Homo sapiens: one gene and its partner. The protein of the gene in region 2 interacts with the protein of the main gene of each other region in a biochemical or structural test. Each region holds a gene or a part of one and is shown on either strand. Other genes may lie near its edges.

The links. Proteins that work in one complex are often made in the same cells at the same time.
Region 1: the proteins of MIA (region 2) and FN1 form a complex in vitro, tested with the Homo sapiens proteins (one study listed by BioGRID).

The regions. Positions count from the first base shown.
Region 1 is NC_000002.12:215,369,334-215,374,598, reverse strand, and holds part of FN1 (fibronectin isoform 1 precursor), read left to right. Parts: intron 1-1,187; coding exon 1,188-1,277; intron 1,278-2,223; coding exon 2,224-2,690; intron 2,691-4,166; coding exon 4,167-4,305; intron 4,306-5,265. UniProt on the Homo sapiens protein: Fibronectins bind cell surfaces and various compounds including collagen, fibrin, heparin, DNA, and actin. Fibronectins are involved in cell adhesion, cell motility, opsonization, wound healing, and maintenance of cell shape.
Region 2 is NC_000019.10:40,772,931-40,778,637, reverse strand, and holds MIA (melanoma-derived growth regulatory protein precursor), read right to left. Parts: upstream 3,118-5,707; 5' UTR 3,096-3,117; coding exon 2,969-3,095; intron 2,887-2,968; coding exon 2,753-2,886; intron 1,670-2,752; coding exon 1,559-1,669; intron 1,242-1,558; coding exon 1,218-1,241; 3' UTR 1,148-1,217; downstream 1-1,147. Other genes in the region: RAB4B (ras-related protein Rab-4B), read right to left, coding at 247-262. UniProt on the Homo sapiens protein: Elicits growth inhibition on melanoma cells in vitro as well as some other neuroectodermal tumors, including gliomas.

The sequences.
Region 1 (5,265 bases), on a different chromosome or scaffold from region 2:
GGGGAGGCCTCAGAAAATGTACAATCATGGTGGAAGGAAAAGCAGGCATGTCTTACATGGCAGCAGGAGAGAGAAGCACACAGGAGGAACTTCCAGATACTTACAAAACTATCAGATCTTGTGAGAACTCACTATCATGAGAACAGCCTGGGGGAACCACCCCATGATCCAATCACCTCCTCTCCTCAATACATGGGGATTACAATTCCAGATGAGATTTGGATGCAGACACAGAGCCAAACCATATCAGTCTGTATAGAGTATCACCTGGACTTTAAAATTCCCACAGAACATACAGACATTAGAAGGAGACACTGGCTTTTTAGAATTGGGGGGAACAGGAAAATAGAAGCAGACATGAGAGGAATTGAACTAGACACTTCCCACAGAGGCTGCACAAACACTGGCCAATCTCTCCTACCCTTCACTTGCCTTTAGTTTCACTTTTCATTGATCTGCCACTGAGGACTGCTTGGTTATTAGGCCTAAGTAGATTCATGTATATAATCTGCAGGACTCTCTTTCAAATTTATATTCCAGTGGTGGTATATGATGCTGATAGATTTTCTTAAATTCAAAAAGGCAAATAAGACCACGTTAAAAGAATACCCTGGAAAGGCCAGGCGCGGTGGCTCACGCCTGTAATCCCAGCACTTTGGGAGGCCGAGGCAGGCAGATCACAAGGTCAGGAGATCGAGACCATCCTGGCTAACACGGTGAAACCCCATCTCTACTAAAAATACAAAAACAAAATTAGCCAGGCGTGGTGATGGGTGCCTGTAGTCCCAGCTACTCGGGTGGCTGAGGCAGGAGAATGGCTGAACCTGGGAAGCGGAGCTTGCAGTGAGCCGAGATAGCACCACTGCACTCCAGCCTGGGTGACAGAGCCAGACTCCATCTCAAAAAAAAAAAAAAAAAAAAAAAAAAGAATACCCTGGAAAAGTTAGCCAAAAAATGTCTATTCAGGCGTCAGATATGATAGTAAGATAATTAGTTTGCGATGCGGACTTTATATGCAGGATATTTGGGTGTTTATGGAGGAAAAGTGAAGTCGATTTTACCTTCAAGAGGCCAACAGCCAGCTGGAGAGGAAGTGCCTGCTCCCAGTAGCGTCTGCTGGTGAGACCGACTTCCACTTGACTAGCTGAGCCCATTGACATAATGTGATGGTTCTATTCTCCCTTCAGGCCTGGAACCGGGAACCGAATATACAATTTATGTCATTGCCCTGAAGAATAATCAGAAGAGCGAGCCCCTGATTGGAAGGAAAAAGACAGGTAAGAGTATCTTGCAGGTAACAAGGAGAAAGATAGGACAAAACTAATAACAAATGAGCAATCTTGCAATATGAAAAGGTTCTCCATGTTTTGATGCATTTCTTGTGATTTTTTTTATCTAACAGCATAGTGTATATATTGTATTCTTTAATAGGAGAAATAATTTAACATGCACTGCAGAGTTTGGTTTTATTTTTTTTCTTTACTACAGCCACTCAATATAAAGCCTTGTTATTCACCTTTTAAAAATTCAAACAAGATGTTAAAATGTAAAAGAAGAGCTATCATTGCTCTTCTTTTATACCTTCTGTTGAATTTTAAAATGTTTCCTTTTTTAAAGGAGGGAGAGAAACCTCTCACATTTATCTTTATTTGGTTTCTACAACTTAGAGCTAAATAATGTCTTACTTTTGCATCCAGTTTCAGTTAATTTCAAGAAAATGTGTATTCCTGATATAGGAAAATTTCAAAAATGAACATGTGTGTTTTATCTATTTTTACCATTTCAAACCATGAAAAACTGTTGAGCCAAACCTCTGTAATTCTCATACTTATGACACTGATATGATTAGTCTGGATTCTACTTCCTACAACTTGCTTCTCAAATTTAAAAAAGAAAGAGAGAAAGAGAAAGACTGCACATTTCAGTTCCATTAGGTCTAATTTGAGCAGAGGCAGCTTCTACGGGGCTCAGCGGTTTAAAGCTGTGTGTATGATAAATTCATACTAACACTTTTTTCTTTCTAAACTATAAAGAAACCTTTGAGAAAAATCCTAAAGATTTCTTTCTGGAAAAAGTGTTTTGTGATCTCAGAACTGCTCATTTTCTGGTGGCTTTTATCAAATTGATGAACAGTCATTGTTGCCTGAATCGATTATTATCATTGCTGCTACTTCCTGGAGCTTAATGCGCTTTGCTTTTTTGGCTCTAACCTCTCTCGGCTAGACGAGCTTCCCCAACTGGTAACCCTTCCACACCCCAATCTTCATGGACCAGAGATCTTGGATGTTCCTTCCACAGTTCAAAAGACCCCTTTCGTCACCCACCCTGGGTATGACACTGGAAATGGTATTCAGCTTCCTGGCACTTCTGGTCAGCAACCCAGTGTTGGGCAACAAATGATCTTTGAGGAACATGGTTTTAGGCGGACCACACCGCCCACAACGGCCACCCCCATAAGGCATAGGCCAAGACCATACCCGCCGAATGTAGGTGAGGAAATCCAAATTGGTCACATCCCCAGGGAAGATGTAGACTATCACCTGTACCCACACGGTCCGGGACTCAATCCAAATGCCTCTACAGGACAAGAAGCTCTCTCTCAGACAACCATCTCATGGGCCCCATTCCAGGACACTTCTGAGTACATCATTTCATGTCATCCTGTTGGCACTGATGAAGAACCCTTACAGGTAATTAATTGTTCTCTTCACTTCTCATGGGGCAGCACAGAAAGGAATAAGTTAGGTAACTGAAGTGACCAGCCCTCGAATAAAAAGTGGCTTCATGGCCGGGTGTGATGGCTCACGCCTGTAATCCCAGCACTTTGGGAGGCCGAGGCAGGTGGATCATTTGAGGTTAGGAGTTCAAGACCAGCCTGGCCAACATGGTGAAACCTCGTCTCTTGAAAAAAAAAAAAAAAAAAAAGTGGCTCCACTTTTAGAACCTCTTAGAAGATGGCACATTTAAGCCCTGCTTTTTTTTTTTTTTAAATCCCAATATGGCTCTACTTTGGAGGACATACCAGAGAGTCACTAGCTTTTATTTCATAGAGAAAATGAAACTATTTCTCTTATTCTCACACATTTGAGGTTCCTTTTTGAGTAAGATAGATGATTCTAGAAAAGAAAGATATTCTACCTGAATTTCCATTTGTGTGCAGAAGTCTAAAACACTACCTTTACGATTTGTCCTTGAAGAACCCCACTATCTACAACATATCTAAAGAAAAAAAAAAACAGGCGAAGCTGTGCATAGCAGCTGATAAGTGATTGATTCTCTAAAACGTATATTATTTAATTTGTGTTGACAGTATCCATTTTTTTTTTTCCCCGAGATGGAGTCTTGCTCTATGGCCCTGGCTGGAGTGCAGTGGCGTGATCTCGGCTCACTGCAACCTCTGCCTCCCAGGTTCAAGCAATTCTCCTGCCTCAGCCTCCCAAATAGCTGGGATTACAGGCATGTGCCACCGCACCCAGCTAATTTTTGTATTTTTAGTAGAGACGGGGTTTCACGATGTTGGCCAGGATGGTCTCGATCTCCTGACCTCGTGATCCGCCCGCCTTGGCCTCCCAAAGTGCTGGGACTACAAGCATGAGCCACCCACTACACCCGGCCCACTGACAGTATCAATTTTTATTGTGTTGTTACTTTTAGAAAGTGGCAGAATTTAAAAACTGACAACACTGTAGGAAATTTATGAGCTTAGAAACATGAGTTTGAGGATTTGCCCAACTGTTTTAAGGACTCCACACTGGGGTCAGATGTCACCTGGAGGAGCATGACCGTGTCTCCCATATAGCGCAGTGTCCAGGTTTTATGTGAAGCAAACATGGCCAGGGCTTCCAGAGGGCTTATGCAGACCTGCGACTGAAGCAAGATCAATGGCAGGCCGTCTCTAGTATTGTCGAGGGCTCCTGTTAACTACGGAGCACGTAGGTAGATTGTTGGCAGGAAAATCTGGCAGGAACGATGGCCCCTATCCTTGTTCCATTTCTCTCCTCAGCTGGTTAGGACCACTATACCCTCCCTCTTTTTTTTTTTTTTGTTTTTTGTTTTTTGTCTTCCTTTGCTTTGTTTAAACAGTGAGGGTTATTGGTAAGAGGAGAGCCCGTGTCATTCCTCACTATAATGCTTTCTCTCTGCTTTGGATGTACCGATAATTGCAGTTCAGGGTTCCTGGAACTTCTACCAGTGCCACTCTGACAGGCCTCACCAGAGGTGCCACCTACAACGTCATAGTGGAGGCACTGAAAGACCAGCAGAGGCATAAGGTTCGGGAAGAGGTTGTTACCGTGGGCAACTCTGGTATGTAAACACGTACTATTTAGACACAGGCTCCCCTCTGCTGTACACCAGAGATGGGCTTTTCTGTTGACTGTACCTTTGTTGCCATTGTCTTTTTATCTTTGGGATTTAATGCAACACATCAACATGAAATAAATGAGCAACTTTATATTAAATTAATCTCTCCCCCACCTCCTGCCATATCCTGTTGTCTTCACAAAATGCATACGTAATTGACAGACTCTCAAATGGTGATATGATTATAGATCTGGAAGGGATTTCAAATATTATTTAGTACAACACTCTGAGTCCTTACTTCTGAGTATCTGAGTTGATATAGGGCACAGGTTTCCTGATGTCTTTTCCCAGACCCTCTCCATCTCACCATGCTGCTGTCCTCTTGAGTGATTAAATACTGAAACGATTACCTATAAAGAAAATACCCCTTCTGCAGACATGGGGACAGTTGGCTTTTGCTCCTGATATAAAATGCTACCAACATTGTGCATTTCTGTCTGCAGAGAATGTTATTCCAATGTTATTTCCATTTTTTTCCAATGTTATTTCCATTTTTTTTTCTGACTATACAGGTTAAAAGCTTCTATAGAGGTTAAAAGATCATTAACTCTTCTTTGTAGCACCTGGGAAATCCTTTTAAATCAATAGCGTGCCACCTGGCTGCTCAATTTGCAGCAGCTGAAAATTCACCAAGGCACATGAGATAGGGGATAATCAAAACCGTGAATCCCCAATCTTCCAACAGGAGAGTTCTCTACTCCACACCAACAGAGAGTGCTAAGTCCTGTCTATGCCAAGTGACAGATTTTATTCCTAAGGCCAGTTGTTTAATTTTAGCCCCTTCCCTCATCTGATAGAAGACTGTGCTACTTTACATGTATAAATTCCTGTGAATTAAGCAGTTGAGCATTTGGCTGGAGAGAGGTTGGGAGGAGATTATTTTGTGTTTGTTGTATTACATAT
Region 2 (5,707 bases):
ACCCCTCAGGACCAGCTCCCTCAAATCCCGCCCCAGATCTATTTAACCCACGCACCAGACCCTCAGGCTCCACCTAAATCGATTAAGCTCAGCCTCAGACCCACTAAACCCCTCCCAGCATCCACTTAGGTCCTGCCTCCATCACACCAGACCCCGCCCCCTGATCTACAAAGCCCCGCCCATTCCCACAGGCCGCATCCTCCCTGGGCCCAGACCCAGGACCCCAGCTTCGTCCACCACCCTCACCGTAGGTCTCAGCCATGACTCGGTCGCGGCCGCTGAGGGCCGCAATATGGCGCCGCGGCCGCGCCTGCTCCTCGGCTGGCAGCCGCTCCACTCCGGCTACAGCCCCGGCTCCTTCCTACTCCCCGGGCCCGGCACCGCCACTTCCGCCTCCGCCCCCCTCCGGCGCGACCCGCTCCGGCAGCTGGATACCAGGCGACGCTTTCCGAAGGGCGGGATTGGCGGACTCGCGGGCAGGGGGCGGGACAAGAGGCGCGGATTGGTGGCGTGAGAAGGACCAAGCCCAAAGGGGCGGGGCCGAGCCCAGCGATTGGCTGAGCAAGTGGGAAGGGACGTGCAGAGCTGCTTAGCTGAGCCGAGGAACGGATTTAGTCTGGAGTACGGGGGGCAGAGTCGAGTCTCCGGATTGGATCGGAGCGGACTTGGGGGAGGGGATACAAATGCAAAGAAGGGGGCACGGGCAGGATTGACAGAAAGAGGCTGGAAGAGGAGCTGATCTTGAGCTGGCGGGAGCGATTACTGTTCTCAAAGGCGAAAAGGAGGAAAACTGGGCAGATAGGCGCAGGTTACTTCCCACCTCCCTTTCCAGATAATCTTCCAAGAAAACCTTTACTGTGCGATTTATATCCTCCGCGTAGTCCGATTGGCTCCCTCCCACTGGTCTAGAGAGGACACTACAATCCCCTAGTTGGGCTGCTTAGGTTTTCCTTTGCTTGTGTCCGAAACCTAAGCTTAGGAGCGCTCCTACTGCACAGGGCTTTCATCAGTGAAACTCTGCCTAGCAACCACTGACGTTACCACAGGCAGCGGGTTAATTGGTTAGATTCAGCAACCTAGAGAAACATTTCATTTGTACAGTCCCCACCCTACCCTACCCCACCCCAAAGACCACGGAGACGAGCCGTTTGCACTGGGCTGATTGTATTTGCATAAAGCCAAGGAGGGGAAACGGCAGGGCCAGCGGTAGGCTGAGCTCACTGGCAGTAGAAATCCCATTTCTGAAAAAGAGAAAGGGGAAACAGTGGAAAGAAAACCAGCGGTCACACCACAAAGGATCTAGTGGTTTTAGCAAAGGCTGCAGCTGCAGGGCCCAGGTCTGGCCACACAAGTGCTATGCAAATTAGCCTAGAGCCCTCTAATCTTTGCACCTCCCAACTGGACCCATTTTACTGGTGAGAAAATTGAGGCAGGGAAAGAATTTCTCCCAGCGCACATACCTAGGCTGCCAGGGAGCCAAGTGTGGGAGCATTTTTGCCCATCCCCACAACCTAAGGGTCCTCCCCCCACATTTCTTGCCAGCCCCCATGACACTCACGTCTGTCTTCACATCGACTTTGCCAGGTTTCAGGGTCTGGTCCTCTCGGACAATGCTACTGGGGAAATAGCCCAGGCGAGCAGCCAGATCTCCATAGTAATCTCCCTGAACCTGGGGAAGAGGAGTTAAAAGCTAGGGTCTGGGAAGATGGCAAGCTTGTGCCTGCTGAAGGCCTTTGCATTCTCCCTTCTCCCTGATCTCCACATAACTGCTCCATCCTTGTCATATGAATCTCAGCTTAAATGCCACCTGTTCAGAGGCCCTTTCTGAACACCCAAGTAAGTCTCTGTTAATTCTCACAGCAGCGCATATTTGCTTTTATTATTATTATTATTTTGGAAACAGGGTCTCATTGTGTCGCCCAGGTTGAGGTGCAGTAGCATGATCACGGCTCACTGCAGCCTCAACTTCTGGGATCAAGCAATCCTCCCACCTCAGCCTCCCGAGTAGCCGGGACCACAGACACATGCCATGAAGCCCAGTTAATTTTAAATTTTTTTTTATAGAGATGGGGGTCTTGCTATGTTGCCCAGGCTGGTCTCGAACTCCTGGGCTCAAGCTATCCTCCCAACTTGGCCTTACTTGGGATTACAGGTGTGAGCTACTGTGCCCGGCTGCTGCTATTTTTTATGCCTTGCTTTTTGTTCATTTCCCTCCATTAGAATAAAAAGGATCATTTGTTGTTGTATCTTGGTGTCTAGAACAGAACGTGGGACCATATCAGGTCCTAAAATTGGTAAATAAAGTGAAAATAGGCTGGGGGGCAGTGGCTCACACCTGTAATCCCAGCACTCCGGGAGGCCAAGGCGGGCAGATCATGAGGTCAGGAGTTCAAGACCAGCCTGGCCAATATGGTAAAACCCTGTCTCTACTAAAAATACAAAAATTAGCCAGGTGTGGTGGTGCATGCCTGTAATCCCAGGTACTTGGGAGGCTGAGGCAGGAGAATCGCTTAAACCCAAGAGGTGGAGGTTACAGTGAGCCGAGATCGTGCCATTGCACTCCAGCCTGGGTGACAGAGCAAGACTCTGTCTCGGAAAAAATTAAAAAATAATAAGCAAATAAAATAAAGTAAGTAACAATATCCCCCCACAATGTCTATTTCAGTTCACCCCCCTCAAATCTTCCCTTCATGGGGATAATGAGTCTACCCCAGCTCTGTACCCTTCCCTCTTTCACTCTCCCAAGACTCACGCTGCCTCCCCAGAAGAGCCGCCCACGGCCCTTCAGCTTGGAGAAGACATACACCACTTGGCCCCGGTGAATGGTCAGGAATCGGCAGTCGGGGGCCATGTAGTCCTGAAGGGCCACAGCCATGGAGATAGGGTCTAGGGAAGGAATAGAAGGGAATGCAGCACCCTCCACACAGGCTAACGCCCAAGCCCCCAATTCTCCCCTCCCCATTCTTACGGCTGCACTCCTGGTCCGCACACAGCTTCCGGTCAGCCAGCTTGGGCATAGGACCACCCCTGACACCAGGTCCGGAGAAGGCAGACAGCAAGATGATGACACCAAGGCACACCAGGGACCGGGCCATCGTGGACTGTGAGCAAGAGAGTGAGCAAGGGGGTGCTGGGGTCTCCAATTTCCTCCCCTCCCTCTCTCCCGTAGTACAAGGAAACTTGTGTTCTTGGTCTTGTCCCCGCCCTAAACCAGTCCCAAACTTCGCCCACACCACCTAGAAGTTGCTATGAAACCAGAACCATTTCAAGGATAGGGTAAAGGCTGTAAGCCCAAGGAAATTCCCAGATAAGGTCCAAAGCAGCTCACAACTTTCCCAGTGACAGCCCCCTCCTCAACAATCACAGAGGCCTAGATAAGGTGGTTGAAATATTCAATTCCATCTTCTCTTGAGTTGGCTTAGGTACCTGGGCTCCTCCGCTGTCCCCTCTGGCCACAGAAGCGGAGGAGCCTGTAAAGAAAACCACCTTGGAATTTCCTGTGCTGTGGGGCAGGAGAACAAGGCAGCCCTTTGATTACCAGAAACAGCCCAGCCCTTGAGTACTGACTGAATATTGTATGCTGAACCTTAGGCTAGGCAAAGTCCCACCATGATCACTATTCCTCTGCACCAGACGCTTCCCACTGGATGACCTGGGCTAAGCTATTTCTCCTCACAAAGCCTCAGCTTCCTTATATGTAAAATGGGAACAATAAAAAAGCCAATAGTTACAGAGCATTCACCAAGTACATATTTATGTTATGAACTCAAATGGATACTCTGTATCATGTCAGGAGGAGTGATTATAACCCCTCCCTTTTTTTTCTTTTTTGAGACAGGGTCTCACCCTGTTGCCCAGGTGGAGTGCAATGGTGCCATCCCGGCTCACTGCAGCCTCAACCTCCTAGACTCAGGCAATCCTCCCACCTCAGCCTCCTGAGTAACTGGGACTACAGGCACAAGCCACCTATGCCCAATTAATCCATTTTTTTAAATAATTATTTTGAGGTAGAGTCTTGCTCTGTTGCCCAGGTTGGAGTGCACTGGCATGATCCTGGTTCACTGTAGCCCCTATTTCCTGGGCTCAAGCATTCCTCCCACCTCAGCCTACCGAGTAGCTGGGACCACAGACATGTACCATTATGCCCAGTTAATTTTTTGTATTTTTTGGTAGAGCCGGGGTTTCGTCATGTTGCCCAGCCTCGTCTCAAACTCCTGGGCTCAAGCAATCTGCCCACCATGGCCTTCCAAAGTGCTGGGATTACAGGCATGAGCCACCAAGCCCAGCCTAATTTAATTTTTTGAGACAGGATCTTGCTGTTGCTCAGGCTGAAGTACAGTGATGTGATCATAGCTCACTGCATCCTCAAACTCCTGGGCTCAAGAAATCCTCCCCTCTCAGCCTCTCGAGTAGAATAGTAGGCAAGTCACCATTCTTGGATGATTTCTTTTATTTTTATTTTTCTAGAGCCAATGTCTTACTGTGCTGCCTGGGCTGGTCTTGAACTCTTGTCCCCAAGTATCCTCCCGCCTTGGCCTCCCAAAGCACTGGGATTACAGGCATGAGCCACCAATGCCTGGCCTATAACCCCTTGTTACATGGAAATGGAAGTGTGGAGTTAAGGAACTTGTCTAAGGCTTACAGAGCCAGGAAGTGGAGAAGTGGAGAGGCTAAGACTTGTATCCAGGCCCACAGCCATTGCTATGCTATCTTTTTTTTTTTTTCTTTTTTTTCTTTGAGATGGAGTCTCATATTGCAGTGGTACAATCTCAGCTCACTGCAACCTCCACCTCCCGAGTTCAAGCAATTCTCCTGCCTCAGCCTCCCGAGTAGCTGGGATTACAGGCATGTGCCACCATGCCCGGCTATTTTTGTATTTTTAGTAGAGACAGGGTTTGTCCATGTTGGCCAGGCTGGTCTCGAACTCCCCACCTCAGGTGATCCACCCGCCTCGGCGTTCCAAAGTGCTGGGATTATAGGAGTGAGTCACCGCGTCTGGCCTGAAAGATTTTTTTTTTTTTACAGGCAGGGTCTCACTCTGTCACCCAGACTAGAGTGCAGTGCCACAATCACAGCTCACTCAGCCTTGAACAACTGGGCTCAAGCTATTCTCCCACCGCAGCCTCCTAAGTAGCTGTGACTATAAGTGTGAGCCACTGCACCTGGCTTTGAAATGCAATTTCTTTTTTTTTTTTTTTTTTTTTGAGACATTGTTTCGCTCTTGTCACCCAAGCTGGAGTGCAATGGCACGATCTTAGCTCACTGTGACCTCCCCCTCCCGGGTTCAAGTGATTCTCCTGCCTCAGCCTCCCAAGTAGCGGGGATTACAGGCATCTGCCACCATGCCCAGCTAATTTTGTATTTTTAGTAGAGATGGGGTTTCACCATGTTGGTCAGGCTGGTGTCAAACTCCTGACCTCAAGTGACCCACCCACCTTGGCCTCCAAAAGTGTGGGGATTACAGGTGTGAGCCACCGCACCCGGCCCCACTTTAAAACACTCTTTAAAAAATTATTTCTTCATTCAGGCCAGACATGGTGGCTCACTCTTGTAATCCCAGCACTTTGGGAGGCTGAGGCAGGCGGATCACTTGAGGTCAGGAGTTTTGAGACCAGCCTGGCCAACGTGGTGAAAATACAAAAATTAGACAGGCATGGTGGCACACACCTGTAGTCCCAGCTACTTGGGAGGCCGAACCAGAATCACT